5 separate regions of the Homo sapiens genome follow, and all the other regions are linked to region 4. Evidence: fine-mapped expression QTL. A gene starts in region 4. Each other region holds a variant in brackets. All regions are shown on one strand. Distances are between the middles of the regions.

What was found. PIP is the estimated chance that this variant, and not a neighbour inherited with it, causes the effect.
Region 1: its variant is the best candidate, but not a certain one, in a credible set for the expression of IFT74 in whole blood (INTERVAL, PIP 0.63).
Region 2: its variant is the best candidate, but not a certain one, in a credible set for the expression of IFT74 in coronary artery (GTEx, PIP 0.84).
Region 3: its variant is the best candidate, but not a certain one, in a credible set for the expression of IFT74 in whole blood (TOPMed, PIP 0.88).
Region 5: its variant is the best candidate, but not a certain one, in a credible set for the expression of IFT74 in whole blood (TOPMed, PIP 0.83).

The regions. Positions count from the first base shown.
Region 1 is chr9:27,060,922-27,065,035 of GRCh38, reverse strand. It overlaps IFT74 (intraflagellar transport 74), which reads right to left. Exons shown (of 20, transcript NM_025103.4): 20 at 1-2,418. The coding sequence ends at 2,300. Among named protein-coding and RNA genes, the nearest start is that of TEK, 46 kb to the left of the region's middle. The variant G/A (reference allele first, on the strand shown) is at 2,313.
Region 2 is chr9:27,038,939-27,043,060 of GRCh38, reverse strand. The region is part of intron 13 of IFT74 (intraflagellar transport 74); the gene reads right to left. Among named protein-coding and RNA genes, the nearest start is that of LRRC19, 35 kb to the right of the region's middle. The variant T/C (reference allele first, on the strand shown) is at 1,668.
Region 3 is chr9:27,007,359-27,011,480 of GRCh38, reverse strand. IFT74 (intraflagellar transport 74) reads right to left here. Exons shown (of 20, transcript NM_025103.4): 9 at 2,323-2,461. Among named protein-coding and RNA genes, the nearest start is that of LRRC19, 3.7 kb to the right of the region's middle. The variant G/A (reference allele first, on the strand shown) is at 2,174.
Region 4 is chr9:26,954,813-26,958,934 of GRCh38, reverse strand. IFT74 (intraflagellar transport 74) reads right to left here and starts at 2,523. Exons shown (of 20, transcript NM_025103.4): 1 at 2,419-2,523. It overlaps IFT74-AS1 (IFT74 antisense RNA 1), which reads left to right and starts at 2,628. Exons shown (of 2, transcript NR_121605.1): 1 at 2,628-2,808; 2 at 2,920-3,155. RefSeq lists a silencer at 950-1,244 and enhancers at 1,841-2,575, 2,576-3,311.
Region 5 is chr9:26,927,773-26,931,894 of GRCh38, reverse strand. PLAA (phospholipase A2 activating protein) reads left to right here. Exons shown (of 14, transcript NM_001031689.3): 3 at 3,487-3,587; 4 at 3,675-3,795. Among named protein-coding and RNA genes, the nearest start is that of PLAA, 17 kb to the left of the region's middle. The variant ATG/G (reference allele first, on the strand shown) is at 1,891.

The DNA of each region.
Region 1 (4,114 bases), 110 kb before region 4:
TGGTTCAGTTCTAGAGTCAAGGACTTAAGAGTTTTTACTACATCCTTTCTGTCAGTTAAAGTAGTAACTGCATATAGTACTTTATTTGAATTTTATTGCATTTCTAAGTATTAAATGTACATCACAGACAATTTTGAAAATACCAAAAAGCCCAAGGAAGATTACAATCACCCATAATCCCACCACTCAGAAAAAAACCCTTATTACTAATAGTAAAAATTACTAAGTTGGTTATTTAAAAGGGTGCAGTAAAATGTCAAGAACACTTAAGTAGAAATCATAAAAAAAAACCTAAGGAAAAAGTAAAGGCATTTAAATTTGCTTTCAAATGAGGAAAACAAAGATTACCTATCCACAAACATGTTTTCCAGATTCCCTTCCTCCTTGGAAGTATCCACGAAATAGAATCAATGTGATTAAGAGACCATAGTAGTCAGTTCTCTTGCCTAAACTCTATGCTCAATCATACCTCTGTTTGTTACTGTATAAAAGATGAATGTTTTTCAGCAGTCGGGTATATCCATAAAGGCTCCTAATCACCAAATTACAGTAATACTTTATGAATGAACGAAGGGCTGCAAACTGTCATCAAAATCTATTACCTGTTTTATCTACTGAATTTCAGATTTCATTCTCTTTAACTGCTAAAAGAGTTTTTTTCCCTTGTGAAATTTTATAAGCACTTTCTGCTACCAATTTCCAATAGAAAACCCCATACAATCACAGCATAAAACAGCTGAGGGTGGCTAAAAAGAGACATACTCAGGAGTCATCTGAAAAAGGCCATAGAGCCACCCAGAGGACTTGAGTAGATGAAATTATTTTAGTGTATGAAGTCTATTTGGTGTACAAAGTCTATTTCTTGGAATGACACATCTCATGTGACCTAGGCTCTGTGAAAGTTAGGGTTTTGTGGACAACTATCTCTGGGAAATGCTTTACAGTATATATTCTTCTTGAGCTTATTATACATTAGCATATTAAGGGTTATGAGCAGTCAAGAAAAAATAAAATAATTCACCTTTGTTTCAGACAACGTTTCCCAAACTTCTTTGACCATGAATCCTTTGGAGGCATAACACTATTAATAACTCAAGATGCTCAGGATTTATGGAACACATTTTATGAATGCTACCTTAATGAATGTCCAGGATCTTCAGCCATATTAGTAATCCAGAGTTCAGCAAACTCAACAATGCTCACTCCTTTATTTAAATGTATATAGACTGAATTTGAATAATTTACCATTATAAATATTTATTTTTAAAAATCAACATATATGAGTAAATTTTAAAGTATGTAAATAATATCTCAATAAAGCTATTTTGGTTTAAGAAATCAATGTGTTGTTTCAGAAATACTGAAAAGTAGAGTTACTTAGTGAACATGATATCAGAGCAAAAACAGGATAGTTTTAAGTAATATTTTATGCTGGCCAAGGTGACTCATTCCTGCACGATAAGAGAAGATACATCTACAGTTAATATAATGTCTTCCAGACTCTATGCCTCTCTCCCAATCCTACCTCTTCTAGCTTTTTTCCCCAAATATTCTGGCTAATGTTTATAAATTAATCTACTTAAGTTCTCCTAATAGTACAAGAGAGTAAATGCATACTGCAGGGTGGCAATGAACAGCAGTAGCCATAGTCCAAAACAGCCCACTATAAATGTAGTCTTTTACCTAATGTTCTTCCAGGTATATATATGTGAAAAAATATTTTAAGAATTGCAAAGATTAAAAGTTTCTAATTCCAAATCTTTAGGTATAACTGCTATATAAAGAATATATGTTATATATTTACCTGTGACATTATATGGTCTAATACACATCAAATATAACCTATTTGAGAAGTAACATTCAAAGCTAAAAATCTCCCTTCTAATCTTACTAATTTTTTCTAGAAGTAAAAATTGACAAGGTTGATCTAAGTGCTAAATCAGAATCATACTCCATGCATCCGTCCTAGAGTTGATACAAGAAAAGCTTATCTCATTTGTTGCCATAGATGGATTATACCAGCTAAATAAATTTCAACGGTCACTTTTAGTTTCTTTATCTCTTGGTTCAAATACAAGTAGCATAAAAAGAAAAGAAGATGGTACTTTTTAATATGCAAACCATTTATTGAACTATTTACTATTTTAAAATATCATTCTTAAAAGAGGCCACAAAAATTATAACATTCAGAAATTTTAGGTAAACTCCAAAAGTAAGCTTTTTTTTTTTTTGGTAGTCAACTTGTACCAAGTTTAGCAGCAAGAGGATACTTCCTTAGAGACTTTCAGTGGACTTAAACTCAGTTTCCGCTG[G/A]TGCTATGTAAAGCATCCACGATGGTTTTATTGTACTCTGCAATCTGCTTGGTCACATTTTTCTTAATTGGCTGGTAATCACTCTCTTGACTCTTGGTTGCTATGACTAATTACATGAGTTAAGGGGGAAAACAATGTCAATAAAAATCTAATTGTGCCTGAGAAAGGAACTAAATACTGACATTTTTCATACTGAAGATGGTACAAAAAAGCACAATTAGAATACTTTAAAATACAGTACATCATTTTAACAGATTAAGCATCAATTAAAACCTAAAATGCCAAGCTAAACTTACCGCAAAAAATTCATATACAATATAAACACTTTTTAATACTTAATATGTTATGCATTTTTAATCTAATTCTGGTCTTAGAACAATCTAACGTTCAATGAACTAGTTCCTATATTCAAACACACATACACACATACACATACCACGTTCTCTAGAGTACCACAAATAATTTAAGGCAAATTTCTAGACTTCGCTCTGCTCCAAAATCACCTACTTTATGTTGCACAAAACTCCAGTGTGAGACTTAGAGCATACTGTGAACAAGTCCTCTATTTTTAAACTAAGTTGCACTAACACTGGCAACAGAGTACCTAAAACACCTTATCTGGAGGTAAGATGGGGTCCAGGCTGCTTCTGAGCTGAAGTTCAGCACCACCCTGGGGGAGAACCTATGCTGCCACTGAGTCAGGATCTAGTTCTCCAGGCAGAGACATCCTTGAATGGGTCAAAGAAGGGAATAGGAAACAACTTTTAAGGAAATATCTGTTACAACTTCACAACACATGTTCTCAACAGCTGCTTGCTGCCTCCTGTAATCAAACTAAAAGTAAACAATAAGATGAGACATAAGTATCATCTTTGTAGACATATAATGGAGTTGAAATGGCTAAAACATGGATGAGCTTGGAAGTCAAACTTCTCAGGATCTTACTTAGTTTACCTCCCTTTGCTGCCCAGATATTCAAGGTAGAACCATATAAACAACAAACAACTATATATTATATATTATGTACATATATATATATATATATACTTGTGGATATATATAACTATATGGTTATATATAATTCTCCCAACACTATGAGAAGGTAATATTAACTATATTTTAGAGATTTTAGAGATGATACAATTCTGGGGCCGAGAGCAGTGGCTCATGTCTCTAATCCCAGCACTTGAGCAGGCCGAGGTGGGATTGAGCCTAGGAGTTTGAGACCAGCCTGGCTAAGTTGGCGAGACCCCTGTCTCTAAACAAAAGAGAAATTCTTGCCATGTTTATCAGAAGATTTACTGATAATGTTTAACTTTACCCAAGCCCTGTGATCCCGGAAAACTGAATCTTAAGAGATGATACAGTTCTAGCTTGAACAGATTAAATTGTCCAGTTTGTAACTTACAAGCAGTAGAGTTGACATTTAAAATTGGATCGCCCAACTCCAAAATCTGGGCACTTAATCACTATGCCACATTAAGTCTTTGTACTCCTTTTTTGGCAACTCCCAAAATCTGCTTTCTATTAGTTACTTGAGGGCACGTGCGTGCGCACACACACACACACACACACACACCTCTTAACTACTGTAGAATTGAAACAGTCATATTCATTTAATTTGGCCCAGGGTTTTGTACATATCTGGTATTTAATAAGTAGGTGTTGAACTAAATTTGAGTCTTTAAAAAAATTCCTAGAAAAAAATAACTCAGTCAATTTCATTTTCAGCTTTTTTTTTTTTTTTTTTTTTTTTTTTTTTGAGATGGAGTCTTGCTCTGTCGCCCAGGCTGGAGTGCAGT
Region 2 (4,122 bases), 84 kb before region 4:
GTCTCAAAATACACTGACGCCCCCTGATTAACTGTGAAGAGGAGGCCAGAGGTACTCTGTTATTAAACAAACTTTGTCTGTATATGTGTGTGTGTTTATATATATACACACATTTGTAAAATATACTACAGACAGGTTTTTGAGTGGGAAACAGAAAGAGTTGGAGTTTGCAGCACACATGATCTGGGATACCCTTATAGGAGGAAGATGTGCATATAAATATCATTGCCCATGTGAAGTGGCAGAAAAGCTACTATCTCCTGAACCTGCCATGGCCCATGTTTCCAAGAAAGTCCTAGTTTCTTGTTCTGGCTATTTAAGTTCCACTCTTGGGAGACTGGTCAGGCATTAAGGGATTAGGAGGGAGGCCTGGATCCTAGACTTTACAAGGATTTAACTATCATCTTATCTTTTTTCTTTTAATCTTAAGAGAATTCCTACACATGATGTTTCCAGTTTCTCATCTTGCTTTTAAACCCCAAGACACTGCAATGAGGCTTTTCCTCCTCCTGTTCCAATGAAATTGTTCTCAGTGAGATTATACAACTGCTTAATGATCAAATTCAAACGGCAGTCAGTTATCTTACTCTGTAATATTTGACACTATTGGTACAACTTTTCAATTTTCTTTGTTTTCCTCTATGTTTTATTTTTGCTTTTTGCGGGGATGGGAGGGCTTCTCTGGCGTTTCTTACTCTCAGATCATTATTTTTCTGTCTTCTCTTCATGGGTCTGCTTCCTTCTTCATTTATATTCTAGAGTTCTGTTCTTAATGAACTTCTAACGCTATATCCATGGCAATTTCATACATTCTTGTGGTTTAAGAACTGTCAAATTTAATATATTCTCTGAGTTTTAGATTCTTTAATCTAAATGCTTACTATATATATTGATTTGGAAGCCCTTTCAGGACATCCTAACTCAGTATACTCATAATTAAACTCATAGTCTTCCCTCTCTTTATTCCCTATTACATTTGGCTGTCCTTACCATCCATTCATCATTCAAGTCAGAAACCTGAGAGGAGACTCCTCCCTCCTTCTCTCCTAAAAGTCATCCTCCTAGTTGCCAACAGATTGAGCTGGAAGATGTAACTGGTTAACATTTACAGCTGTACAGCTGGCCAGCTGGATTAGATGGGACAGAGCTCCTACACATCTCAGCAGATTCCCAAGCTTCATAAAACTTCCTCCAATATCACTATTGCTAAGAAGGAGAGTGGTCAGAGCATTAGTGAACTTCTCTATTTGGTGATTTCTCAGTGGAGGATTAGTATCTGAGTTGCTCATAAAGGCAGTGTAAATGTAGGCAGTCCTAAGGTAGGGTAAAACATAATGGTTTTTAGCAAATATATCCTTAGATTCAATATCACAGGACAGGATGAGATTGTAGATAGACGGAAGCAAATCAGTGTATCACAATGGAGGTACCAGCAAGTAAGCAGAAGGGTCTAATGTAGTAGAATCAACAATGAGGAGACCAAGGGAGAGGGAAAGGGACACAACGGTAAAAGGAAGGTAATTTTGGAGATATCCTTTAATTCGGAGCATTTGATGTGCGCATACTTCTATACTCATTTATTTATTTCCGATAAATTTACTGATTATCAGATACTAAGTGCCAGATACTGTAATAGGTTTTGGGATATCAAACTGAGTAAGACAGTT[T/C]CCACCCTATTCTCAAAGGGCTTACACTCCATTAGGTGTACAAAACCAAAAATTTATAATGCAACATAAGTGCTCTGACAGGAATGTATGAAGTGCTGTGGTAACCAGATGCGTGAAAAGACTTCAGGAGGATTTTACACAGGAATTATACCAGCAAGGTACTTTATCGGGTAACATGGGGATTAAAGAAAAAAGTAAAATATTTTCCTCTGAAGAATTTATACTCTAATAAGACAAGTATACAAAAATGTATACTATAAATTCAGGCTTTTTCATCCCTCAAGTAGGAAAGAAGAAATGCGTATGTGCTGTTAACAAAAGACTGGGGCTACTGTAGAAAGGACACCATTGCTTTTTTATAGTCTCTGCTATAGCCAGCAGTGCAGTAAGGGAGATATGCTCTTCTTGCACTGCCAATAGTCTGAGCACCACCAAAACTACCTCTGTCCTCACTGCAAGGGAAGTTCACCCCATACTTTTACTTCTCTGGCATCAAATGACGTTCTCCTGACTCAGGCTTTATAGGCTTTTATACTCTGAGAAGTAGTTCTGCCCCTAAGAAGGTCTGATTACCATTTTCCAAATAGGTGGCTATCCCAATCTTCTCTCCTGATCAATACACAACAAGGCATGTACTAGTAACTCTCCTGAACTCAAGGTCCCCAACTCAGCAAAGCCTACTGATTTTGGAGTTGAAAGGTCAACAGAAAACAAAATCAGGGAGACGGGGCAAGAAAAAACTCCACAGGACTTTTGCACAGCCAGACTGTTTCTTAGCACTTGGAATACTTCTGAAGCACGCAAAGTCTCCCAGTACCTTTCCTTCTTTTTTTTTTTTTTTTTTTTTTTGAGACAGTGTCTCGTTCTGTTGCCCAGGCTGGAGTGCAATGGTGCAATCTCAGCTGCAACCTCCGCCTCCCAGGTTCAAGCGATTCTCCTACCTCAGCCTCCCAGCTAGCTGAGGCTACAGGCACACGCCACCATGCCCAGCTAATTTTTGTTTTTAGCAGAGACAGGGTTTCACTATGTTGGCCAGGATGGTCTTGAACTTCTGACCTCAAGTGATCCCCCCACTTCAGCCTCCCAGAGTGCTGGGATTACAGGCGTGAGCCACTGCACCTGGCCTCAATATCTTCTATATGGCATGGTTTCTATCCCTATTACCATTCTGGTCACTCTGCTATGAACGAGCTCTAGTTTTTCTCTAACCCTTTTAACATATTATGCCAAGAAACTTAAGATTCCAAGAAGATGTCACTCTCCATAGTCTACATAACCATTTTTTGTTATGCAATCTAGGATTTCAGCCGTTTTCAAGGCTGTATCACATTAATTCATATTGAGTTATCTAAACCCCTTCTAACATTTTCACATATTTTAGTGAGCCAGAACACTTTCTCCTCCCTGACTCCTATTTCAATTTTAATTAGTTGTGGGGGCCTATAAAATTCCATCTTTTTGCATTCAGTCTATCTCTCCCATCTACTTTTCACATACCATTATTACAGTAAGCAGCAAGTTAGTATATAAAATAGTCATTCCTTGGTATCTGATGGGGACTGGTTTCAGTACCCCCACCCCTCTGTAGATAACAAAACCTGAGGATGTTCAAGTCTTTTACATAAAATGGCACAGTATTTGCATATAACCTACATATACCCTCCTGCTACATACTTTAAATCATCCCTAGATTACTTATGATACCTAATATATTGTAAATGGTTGTTACACTGTGTTGTCTAGGGAATAATGACAAGGAAAATAAGACTGTACATGTTCAGTACAGATGCAACCACTGTAGGGCAAACTACACAGTATACATCAGCAACAATGTAACACTTTTTGTTTTATTTTTATTTTAAAAATAGAAATGGGGTCTATGTTGTCCAGGCTGATTTCAAGCTCCTGACCTCAAGAAATCCTCCTGCCTCAGCCTCCCACAGTGTTGGAATTACAGGCATGAGCCACCACGCCCAGCCACATTTTCTATCAACACTTGCAGATGACTTTCATTTAATGACCTGAAAGAGTACATTAAGACGCATCAAAACTCTGGCTCTTCTGGCTGAGCACAGTGGCTCACACCTATGATCCCAATACTTTGGGAGGCCAAGATAAGAGGACTGCTTGAGGCTGCGAGTTCGAGACGAGCCTGGGCAAAATAGTGAATCCTGTCTTTACAAAAAATTTAAAAATTAAAAAAAAAGAAGCATAAACTGTCGCTTTTCTCTCTTGATAACCCTCATTTGACGATGATGACGATTATAATTTCTATTTGGTGCCCATGGTGCCCATATGGTGAGGTGGTGAGATGCGCAGCACTGTAGGTAAGTGGTGAAACACAAGGCTAACTTGAACCTTCTAACAGGACATCGGAAAGATCATTTATGCTGGAAGAATCTTCAAGCGTTTAAGGTCGAGGCTTCATAATACAGACGGCTTTAGTTGGGAACAT
Region 3 (4,122 bases), 53 kb before region 4:
CTCTATACTGTGTACACACACATATAACACATGCACACATACATACACATATATGTAAATATAAATATGGTTCACATGTACACATACATACACGTATATGTAAATATAAATATGGTTCACTCCTAAGATAAGATCCTTAAACTGTTTACTCATTCATTATCCCATACAAGATTAACTATATTTTGGTACTATTTTGGCATTTCTATCATACTCTTTCTTTTTTCTTTTTGAGACAGAGTCTCGCTCTGTTGCCCAGGCTGGAGTGCAGTGGCATGATCTCGGCTCACTGCAACCTCCGCCTCCCGGGATCAACCAAGTACCTGCCTCAGCCTCCCGAGTAGCTGGGATTACAGGGGCCTGCTACCATGCCTGGCTAATTTTTGTGTTTTTAGTAGAGACAGGGTTTCACCATCTTGGCCAGGCCATACTTTTTCTTCAACGCTTCACAGTATCTTAGAAATCTTCTCTAAAATAAAAAGGTTACTAAATTGTCAGCAAAGGAATGTCTAAGAAACTAAAACTATAATCATTATTGGCATTTATGGGGCCTAATTCTTTGCTTAATCTTTAGTTAAGGGCCATCTGGGCATGAAAGGGAACCACCATGACTGAGTATTGAGAGGATTCTCAATATGCCCTCAACAGGGACTTAAATTGCTTATTTAATATTGCATGTTCTCACTCATCTGTAGGAGCCTAAAAAAGTGGATCTCGGCCGGGCACAGTGGCTCACGCCTGTAATACCAGCACTTTGGGAAGCCGAGGGGGGCGGATCACCTGGCTAACACGGTGAAACACTGTCTCTACTAAAAACACATAAAAAATTGGCCAGGCGTGGTGGCGGGCACCTGTGGTCCCAGCTACTCAGGAGGCTGAGGCAGGAGCATGGCATGAACCTGGGAGGCGGAGCTTCCAGTGAGCCGAGATCGCGCCACTGCACTCCAGCCCGGGCGACAGAGCGAAACTCCGTCTCAAAAAAAACAAAAAAAAAAAAACAAAAAAAAGGGGGTAGTAGAATGATGGTTACCAGAGGCTGAGAAGGTGGTGCCCAGTTGGGGGCATGGGGTGGTGTGGGGGAGAGAAGGAATAAATTCTCATGTTTGATAGAACACTAGGGTGGCTATAGTTATCAGTAATTAATTGTATGTTTCAAAATAGCCAGAAAAGGAGATTCAAAATGTTTCTAGCATAAGGCCGGGCGCGGTGGCTCATGCCTGTAATACCAGCACTTTGGGAGGCCGAGGCAGGCGGATCACGAGGTCAGGCGATCAAGACCATCCTGACTAACACGGTGAAACCCCGTCCCTACTAAAAAAATACAAAAAATCAGCCGGGCGTGGTGGCGGGCGCCTGTAGTGCCAACTACTTGGGAGGCTGAGGCAGGAGAATGGCATGAACCCGGGAGGCGTAGCTTGCAGTGAGCCGAGATGGGCACTGCACTCCAGCCTGGGCGACAGAGCGAGACTCCGTCTCAAAAAAAAAATTTTTTTTAAATTAAAAAAAAAAAAATGTTTCCAGCACAAAAAAAATGCCAAATGTTTGAGGTGATGAATATCCTAATTATCCCGATTTGATCATTATACATTGCATACGTGCATGGAAATATCACATGTACCCCATAAATATGTACAATTGTGTATCAATAAAAAAATTAATTTTTAAAAATGGAAATTTAGGCAATATAATTACAGGACAATAGCCATTCAAATCATAATGCTAACAGGTAAAAAGGTTAGCTGTTTATTAAGCAGGAAGGAAAAGGAAAGTAAATATATATATGGATCTGGTCTATGAGGCCTTTTTTTTTTTGAGACAGAGTCTCGCTCTGTTGCCCAGGCTGGAATGCAGTGGTGCAATCTCAGCTCACTACTGCAACCTCCACCTATGAGGCCTTTTAATGTTTGCATTAAAAGTCTGTAACTGCAAGTATTTACAGACTTTTTAATTTACAGACAAGTATTTTTATCAATGCAAACATTTATAGAAAAGTACTTTTATAAATGCAAATATTTATAGACAAGTATTTTTATAAATGCGAGTATTTTCATGTCTTTATGAAATGCAAAATGAATAAATAGAAGTAAACCAAAAATAATAAGAGTAAAAGCTAGGTCATCAAACAGCAGATGAAAATGAAGTTTTCTAAATAAATTCTTCTGAAATGTGAATATAC[G/A]TATGAATCAGATGGGGACCTTGTTAAAATGAAAACTGATCTCAAAGTATAGTCAAGTTCTCAGGGGATGCTGATGCTGCTGATATTCAAACTATACTTTTAGTAGCAAGAATGATACATGCTTGGCACACAGCAGTAATTTGTATTACCTGTAACAGTTTCTCATTTGTGGTTTTCATCTCTAGGTACTTGACTTGGTTTTCAAAAGACATATTTTTGATAATGTCATCTGTTGCTTGTTTTTCCTGTTCAATTTCTTCTTCGACACTTCTGATTTGTTTTTCTTTCCTAAAATCAGAAGCACGTAATATTCCTGATACTATATTGAGGAAAAAATATCCAATTATTTTATACAAGTCATGGTCCTAATTTAATAGGATACTTAAAGACATTCAACCACAGTGTGTGACTGAAAAGTCTTTATATTTGTACTAAAAAATGCTATTTGACCTATATAAAATTTGGCCCCATTAGCACAAACTTATTTTTACATCTTTCTCTTCTCCATCCCTAAATTCCTCTATTTCCTTACTCTCCATTTTATTTTACTAAGAAATCACAAAGATTACCAAAAAATCCTTAATGACTTATATATATGAGGATGCATTTATACTTTTTTAAAGTTATACCTTCAAAAGACAAATAAGAGGCTGCGCTCGGTGGCTCACGTCTGTAATCCCAGCACTTTGGAAGGCTGAGGCAGGTGGATCACCTGAGGTCTGGAGGTCGAGACCAGCCTGGGCAACACGACAAAACACCCATCTCTACTAAAAGTACAAAAATTAGCCACACGTGGTGGCGGGCACCTGTAATCCCAGCTACTTGGGAGGCTGAGGCAGGAGAATCGCTTGAACCCAGTGGGGAAGAGGTTGCAGTGGGCTGAGATCGCGCCACTTCACTCTAGCCTGGGCAAAAGAGCAAAACTCCATCTCAAAAAAAAAAAAGACAAATAAGTTTTAGAATTGTGGTTTTAAAGCATCCTTTAGCCATAAGTTTTTCTGACTAAATTAAATACTGTATAGAAGTTTCCCGTGTAAATCATCCAGTGTGGCTCTGACAGAACTAGGGAGTAGAGAGGCCTGCAGTGCAATTTGATTTTTTAGTTATGGCTTTAGATTAATAATATGCTTTGCTTAAGTTCTCTTTTACTTACTGCTTTAGTTAACATTGCTATTTCACAAATTTTTGCTATTTTTTAGCATTGTAAAATATTAAGCTCATTTCTCTAAAAACACAATAAACATTACAAACATAATCCTATAAAAGTAGTAATAGTGAAATTAATTAGAAGCAATAACCATTTTTATCACGTAATCAAAAGAAATACCAATGACATGTCACTTGTTGCCTAGGCAAGGTCAATTATTGATAGGGTAGAGAAAAACTCTGAAAAAAGAATAGGTAAGATGCCACTTATCTAAATACTTTCAAGATTTACATTTTATAAAAAGCTGGATTGAACACACATTTTCACTCCCAAGATCATTAATTTCTATTTTGAGTTTCAAAATCTGATTAACCTATCACTATTTACTCTCTTTCGCTCATAGATACCAACTTCTATAGTTTTCACAATCACCAGCTAAGCTTGTGGATCCACATATCCCCTACACACCTTCTACACATTCATATCCTACTACTAGAATAAACAACCTAAACTCAGAAATTTCCCTACCAAAAAAAATCTCAAAATAACCAAATAAAAGATGAACATAGTAAAGCAACCTGGAATTTCAATTTATTTTTGTTTCACTGTTGGAGAAGAAGTGGTATCTTCACTTGGAGCTTCAATTACAACAGTAAAACAAATGTGTTTCCTGCTGCTACAATTTGTATAGGTATATGAGCTCAAAGAAATTGAAAGGAAAGTATCTATTTTCATAAATTAAGGATACTGAAGCCCAGTGGAATTAATCTTTTGGAAGGAATTCATTCTAAATTTGATTACT
Region 4 (4,122 bases):
ACACTTCCCTCTCTTCTGGTTCTTTTTTCTGTCTCCTTGATCTGTCCTTATATAGAGCATTTTCTAAGATACCATCCACCATCTTTTTCTTTTCTCTCTCTAAACTCCCCTTGGGCCCCCTTATCCACACTCAGGGTTTTAACAATTAATAAACTGATTCCACACAACTTCCTTATTTTAGCACTCAGCTTGCGGTGTTTATATCCAAATAATAACATCTCCACTTAGATGTCTAAATATTTCAAAATAAACATATGTAATCCAAACTCATTATCATCTGCTCAAAATTTGTCCTTCCTCTTGGTGTCACCTCCTAGTCACACAAGTAAGAAATTTAGTCCTTGACATCTTCCTCTCCCTTACTCCCATGGCTGGTCACATAGTTCTACTGAGTTTGTTTTGTTTAGTTCTACTGATTTTGTTCCTAAGTGTTTAACAGGTACTTTACTCTCTATTCCTACAGCACTGGCCAATTCAGGGCATCACTGACTCAGGTGGACTATTATACCAGCCTCTTAAGTGGTCCCCTTGCCTAACACACATTTTGCCTATTACTTTCTCTGGGAATCCTTCCATGACCAGTCCATAACTGGTCTTGGAATCTTCGTCTTCTTCAATTTCAGTGTATAGGCCTGTTCTACATGCTACCATGCATCCTGTGTATTACTTTATTCCAGAACCTATCACACCACTTGAAATGATCTGCTTAAGTATTTCTCACCCTTTATGGCAAGAGCTGAATCTTAATCATCTTTATATCCCCAAAATCTGTCTCAGTGATAAGCAAAAACTTTGTTCTCTCTTGTATCTTTTAAATTTCCTCGTACATAAAGGTATTGCCAATTACAAAAATTTACTAAATTGTTAAAAAGCAAACAAAGCGACCGGGAGCGGTGGCTCACGCCTGTAATCCCAGAACTTTGGGAGGCCGAGGCGGGTGGATCACGAGATCAGGAGATGGAGACCATCCTGGCTAACATAGTGAAACCCTATCTCTACTAAAAATACAAAAAAAAAATTATCCGGGCGTGGTGGCGGGCGTAGTCCCAGGAGGCGGAGCTTGCAGTGAGCCGAGATCGCGCCACTGCACTCCAGCCTGGGCGACTGAGCAAGACTCCGTCTCAAAAAAAAAAAAGGCAAACAAAGCGTGTGTTGGACTAAAATGATTTCTCTGTTTCTACACTCTATGTCCAGTACTACTTTTCTGACTTTTCTTAGCATTACTCGTAATCAGTCCTTGGACTGCTTCTATCCTTTCTACAGTCATGCATCTTTATAACTCCAACTATGTGTACGGCTCACTAATCAATGTCTACAGTTCTGCCCTTTCAACTGGGCACCAATTTTGAGTTTTCAATTGTTTATCTGAAATTTCCATTCAGATATCTCATTTGAATATGTTCACATCAATCTTCCTGACCCCACTAGCTCCCTGATTCTAATTCCTTGCCATTTTGAACTCTATGTACAAAGCAAAAGAATTTCAAATGGAAAAAGGAATTTCATGAAATGACTCTTTGAAAAGGAAGACGGTGTATGATCAAAATGGTTTTTCCAGAAGAAAACGAGTACAATAAACATCTCTTTCCAGTGGAAAAGATATTACTCTAGGTTTCCTGCTAACTTTGAGAAAATGTACAACATAAAAAATTTCACCCAATTTTCTTTGCCACCGTTTTACTGTGGTGAAAAAAAGCTTACCATTATATTATTACCAGTGGGATTAAGAGGCGGGCATTAGCAACAAATATACCACTAACTTCGGGGTTATTCAATCAAAGAGTCACACAATTTCCAATTATTCACACAGAGAGGCAGCCTGGCCTTTGGATCCAGAATGATTAGCGATACAAACTAGTGCTGACAAAGTTAGCGGCTGCATAATCTTGCCACCTTAATTAACCCCTCAGGATTTCATCTTCTGTAAAACAGAAGGGTGACATCTACCTTGCAGGGCTGTTGTGAAGACGATAAGTATTACATTTAAAACATCTGCTTCTAATTATTATTACTATCGTTATCCTCCCTAAGCCAACCATTCTCACACAGGTGAATAAGTGGAAAGTTGCTAACTGCCCGCACTGTGATCAACAGACAGAAATAAGTCCCTTCCACTGTAAGAGGCAGAAATGTATTGCTTTGACTAAAATCCTTCAGCCCATCGCGGTCCTTCCCTCTGCTCTGTGCTTGGCGGGTCTCCTGCGGGGGGTCGGGGAGGGGTCGGGCTGTTGGAGGAGGTCTGTTCGCAACCTTCGCTCGACTAGAATTGGTACATGCCTGGCCTGGCTACAGGCCCGACGGTAACAGTTAGCTAAGACCGAGTTTGAATTTGTTTTGTTTGGAGCGGATCAGCATCTCCAAGGCAAGAGAACAGACGTGGGAGGGAGGGAGGAAGAGATGGGACCCGGGGATTCTCACCTCCGCCGGCGCGGAAGGAGGGCAGTTGCCCGGCTCGCGGGTGCCTTAACTTCTTTCTGAGGCCCACGCTCAGTTTTCCTCGGCTCTCAGGCCTACCCACTAACTGCCGTGCGCCGCGGCGTATCCCGGCAACGGGGGCGGGATAGCGGAGGCTCCTCATCCTGAGTGACCAATCCTCCGCCTCAGCCCTTGGTTACACACGGAGCTCTCGCGAGAATTGAGGATATGTTTGTTTCTTCACCACGCTTCAGTGCTTTTTGGAAAAAGTGGAAAACAGCGGGGCGGCTGGAAGACAAACATTTTATGTGAACGTTTGGTTTTCTTGATAATCAGAGCAACCTCCGTGTGCCTTACTTGAAGTAACTCTAGCGAGTTTTGCTATGTCCCTAGGTAACCTCACGTCGGCTAACGTTGTTAACAGGTTACATTTGAAGTTAAGTGGTAGGCAGCATTGTGCAATTTTCTAAACTCCTAATTTGTGGTAGTTTTCCTTCCTATTAGGACGGCATAGCGTACACAACGCATCATGAAGTATGGATGCGATTCTGGCACCAACTGTTCCGTTCCTGCTTTCACCAGAAGCTTTGCGTCTTTAAGCTTCCTTTCATTAGAATTTGGATCCAAGTTTGTGGGGAAGACTGTGAATTCAATGGAAAGTGTCCTTTTTTTTTTTTTTTTTAATTTAAGAACTACTTCACCTTAAATCCCACTTCTCTAATAAAATAACTTTTACTGTATGTTTCCTTCCAATCTTCATTGATAACAGCTTAAATGTGATTGCATATGTATTGGGATTTTAACATTATTTTACACATTATTTCCAACTTGCCTGCCTTCGAGGAGTTAAAAATCAATACAACACAAAATGAGATAATGTTATGTGGCTGAATTCTCCCTTAGTTTGTGAAACATTTTCATGTAATTATCTCATTTGAGCTCACCCTATTTGCAGTGGCCATTTGTCATCCTTTTGGCAGAGTTTCTCCCTTACCCTGCCCCCCAACACCCTTACAGGAACTGAAAGTGACAGATACTGGCTTTCCTAGTCTTCCTTATTACTGGGACATGAGTATTATTGCTTGCTAGACTCTCCAATCTAATTTGGTGGACTCAACTCAAACTTGAATGACAACCAGAAGCAGGACTTCAGAGAGTCTGTTGAAGTAAGGGTGACAGCCGCAGTAACTACATCGTTTCCGAGACTGCAATGTTCTATCACCAGCAACCAGTGTCCAGCATCAGTGTGTTGTTGCAAGCTGCAGTGTTAGGTACTCAGAGGCTTTATTGGGAGGAGAACCTCTAGCTTGTTTCTTCAGCTTCTGGGAGAGTCTGTGAGCTGCTTAATGTCCTTTAATAAATTCATTTTCAGCTTTTATATCATTTATAGATGATTTCTGTTCCTTGCACTTAAGGACCCTGACAGATATTAACAGTTGAAATTGGCAGGACAGATACTATTATCCAAGTTTTAAAGAGATTAAATAATTTGCTTAAGCTCATTTAGGTAGTAAGTATTGATCCCTGTCCCCATTTCTTTTTCATGATGAAAAAGGAATAGAGAATAGGAATACATCTCACTTATTTGCCTCTGAGCTTCCTTAGAGTAGGCACCATATCTTATTTGACTTTGGATCATTATGTATTAGGTTCTGTTGCTTTTAAGGTTATATCAAATTGGAATTAGGTTATATCAAGTTGTAATTT
Region 5 (4,122 bases), 27 kb after region 4:
CAGGCTGGTCTCAAACTCCTGACCTCTGGTGATCCATGTTGTCCAGGCTGGTCTATAACTCCTAAACTCTGGTGATCTGCCTGCCTCGGCCTTCCAAAGTGGTGGGATTACAGGCATGAGCCACCGTGCCCAGCCCTACATCTTTCAATCTGTCAGTTTCTTTCTTTTTTTCTTGTTGCTTAAAACCAGATTATTTTAGCTGTAGAATTTCCCACAATCTCAGTTTTACTGGTTAAAGCCTTGTTTCCTTTAATGTGTTCTTCAGTCACCTATATTTCTTGTAAGCTGTTAAATAGATCTAGTAGCTTTATCAGGTTCAGATTCAAGTTTTTGGCAACAGTATAGGTGGTATTCTGTATTTTCTATTGTATCACATCAGGAAGCACACAATATCTTTTTGTGATATTAAGATTGATCAGTGGGTTCAAGTGTTGTATCTTTCTTTCATTATAAAGTTCCCATCAGCCTTTCACATAATGGTAATTTTTAGCAGCTACTGATAATCATTGCCTAGATTCAATATTTTATTAAGGTTTACAAAATGATTGTACTGTAATTCTAATATTATTTCTGCATTTGATCGCCAAGACTTTTCTGTATAGATCTTTCCACATCAACTGGTTACCATGTGGGACTTCTATACAGAAAAGACAGAATAAATGCTTTCCTTGACCCTTCTCCCAATTTATTTACTGGTTTGCAGAAGGAGTTGTTTCCTGAATTTTTTTTTTTTTTTTCAGTTCTCAAATTGTTCCATATCTGGCCATTGGAAACCTCTTTAAATTGGCTCCTGTCACCTTTTTATAAGACCTTCAGTAGTCTTCCTTGCTTTATTACAGAATGTTCTAGGTTCAGTTTGTACACTTCTTGCTCTAGACCTCAAACCAGCACTTTTGCCAAGAAGTCCTGTTTTTTTTTTTCTTTTACTGGGAAATGGTATTTTATCCAATTATATCATACTGATTTGTGGAAGAATGTAAAGAGCACCCAAGTTACAACTATTAAGATCTCAGACTGGGCATGGTGGTGCATGCCTGTAATCCCAGCACTTTGGGAGGCCGAGGTGGGTGGATCACTTGAAGTCAGGAGTTCACGACCAGCCTGACTGACATGGTGAAACCCTGTCTCTACTAAATACAAAAAAATTAGCCGGGCATGGTGGCGCATGCATGTAATCCAAGCTACGTGGGAGGTTGAGGCAGGAGAATCACTTGTGCCTCGGAAGCGGAGGTTGCAGTGAGCCAAGATTGCACCATTGCACTCCAGCCTGGGCAACAAGAGCAAAACTCCCATCTCAAAAAAAAAAAAAAAAATCTCAGTGATGTAACATATGAGTATTTCTCATTAACCCTACATGTTCAACATGGATTAATAAAGGGACTCTGTTCATCAGATTTTCTCAGGGACCCAGGCTAATGGGGCTTTCTCTCCACACATGCTTCAGTAGTTGTTGGAGCAGTCAAAGGGCAACATGGTTAATAAGGCACTGGTTGGCTGGGCGAAGTGGCTCATGCCTGTAATCCCAGCACTTGGGAGGCCAAGGCGGGCGGATCATAAGGTCAGGAGATCGAGACCATCCTAGCTAACACGGTGAAACCCCATCTCTACTAAAATACAAAAAAATTAGCTGGGCGTGGTGGCGGGCGCCTGTGGTCCCAGCCACTCGGGAGGCTGAGGCAGGAGAATGGCGTGAACCCGGGAGGCAGAGCTTGCGGTGAGCCGAGATCACACAGCTGCACTCCAGCCTGGGCGACAGAGCGAGACTCTGTCTCAAAAAAAAAAAAAAAATAATAATAATAATAAGGCACTGGCTTTTAAAAGCATGTGCCTTCCTTGAATGTCACAGTAGTAGAGAATTAAAAAAATCAATTTTAAAAAAACACCAAAAAC[ATG/G]TGTGTGACTGAAAGTGTCAGCTACCGTTTTGTCTGGTGACTAATGCAAGTATCATGGCTATGCCTAACTTCAAATGGAGGAGGAAAGTACCATTCTCCCATGTGTCCAAAAAGGGAGAGTTACCACAGCATGCTTTCTGGTCATCAACGATTCAGCTTCATCAAACAATCCAAAAGTCTCCTCTGAGTGATGCTAAGTATTCTAAACATCAGAGAGGTGATGCTTATAAGTAAGCTGTCAACCATACCCAATATACAATTATGGAAAAGGAATAGGATAATCAGAGCAAACACTCATTCAGAAGAGGAAGCAGTGCAAGACAACAGTTTTTGATCTAGAGCCATTCTGAAATCCAAATAAGTAGCTGTCTCAAGGATCCTCAGCTCAGGGTAGAGAGACTTTTGTGATTGCTTCCTTCTGGTCTAGGAAAAAGGTTTCCCAATCCAAGGTTCTTTATGGCTGTGCTTCGACCGCCAATGATACTCTTCTTTCCTAAGATAATTTTTCTTTTTTTTTCTTTTATCTTTTGAGAGAGGGTCTCACTTTCTTGGTCATACCAGAATGCAGTGCTGCTCTCACAGCTCACTGCAGCCTTGGCCTCCCATGCTCAAGCAATTCTCTTACTGGGACGACAGGCGCGTGACACCATGTCTGACTAATTTAAAATTTTTGTTTTAGAGCTGGAGTCTCACTATATTGCCCCAGGCTGGTCTCAAACTCCTGAGCTCAGTTCAAAATGCTAGGATTACAGGCATGAGCCACTCCACCTGGCTAATTTTTCTTTTCTTTCTTTTTTTTTAAAGACAGAATCTTGCTGTGTCACCCAGGCGTGAAGTGCAGTGGTATATGATCACAGCTCACTGCAACCTCTGTGCCCTGGGCTCAAGCAATCCTCCCACCTCAGCCTTCCAAGTAGCTGGGAACACAGGCGCATACCGCCACACCCAGCTATTTTTTTGTATTTTTAGTAGAGATGAGGTCTCTCCACATTGCCCAGGCCGGTCTCTAACTCCTGAGCTCAAGCAATCCGCCTGCCTTGGCCTCCCAAAGTGCAGGGATTACAGGTGTGAGCCACTGTGCCTGGCATAATTTTTCATATTTGTAATTTTTAGCCTGCATAATTTCACATCAAGAAAGTAAGACATTTAATTAACCACTTCATTACTTTTGGACATTGAGCTTGGCTGCAGGTTTTATGGTCACTGTCATGAAAGCAGCCTTAAATATTTATATAAACAGTGTTTCAAAATCATTTACATTATCTCCCTATTATGATTTGTTAAAGCTGGAAGGATTGTGTAGCTCACTTAAGTTCCGCTCCCTCGTTTCACAGACAAGGAATCTGATTTTGAGTAATATTTCTGCAGTTACGTGGCTTGTAAGTGGCACAGCTAGGCCTTGCGCCCAGGCAGTCTGGCACCAGAGTCTGCTCTTGACCACTGTACTCTTATGCGTCTCTGCTGAATTGAGCCTTAGTTAGCTAAGATACTGCCACTTCAAAGAGTGTTTTTAAAATTGGAATGCTTTAGTAACTTTCAATGTTGAGCATTTTTCTGTATGAAAATGTGTTATCCAATGATGTTTTTTCCTTAGTTTGTAGTCTATCATCTGGAAAATTTGGGACATTACTTAGTGGTTCATGGGACACCACTGCTAAAGTCTGGCTGAATGACAAGTGCATGATGACCTTGCAGGTACAGTAGTTCTGTGTAAATATTCTAAAGAATAATTAAGTTGAATGATTCTGTGGCAACTTAAATTGATACTCATTTTACTCACAGGGTCATACAGCTGCAGTGTGGGCGGTAAAGATCTTACCTGAACAGGGCTTAATGTTGACTGGATCAGCAGACAAGACTGTTAAACTGTGGAAGGCTGGAAGATGTGAGAGGACTTTTTCAGGTAAGATCAGGGTAGACAAGTTTTATAATATCATTGCTTTTTATTTGCTCAGATTTTTTTTCTCAGAAGTTTACAAGCATGAAAATATTTGAAAAACATTAGTATATTTAAGCTATTAATTTGAGTTAATGTAATTTTTCTGATGAGTTAATATCTAATACATTTAAAAAGATAATGAAACCTCTCATAAAACAGCCAAATGTAGACTGATAAATAGCTGTCTGATAAGCTATATATAATATGCATATGTGCTTCTGCATATATGTATGTAATTTTTGGTATATAGTTATATTTTTGGTTGTCATTTTAATACTTTTAGCCTGAAAC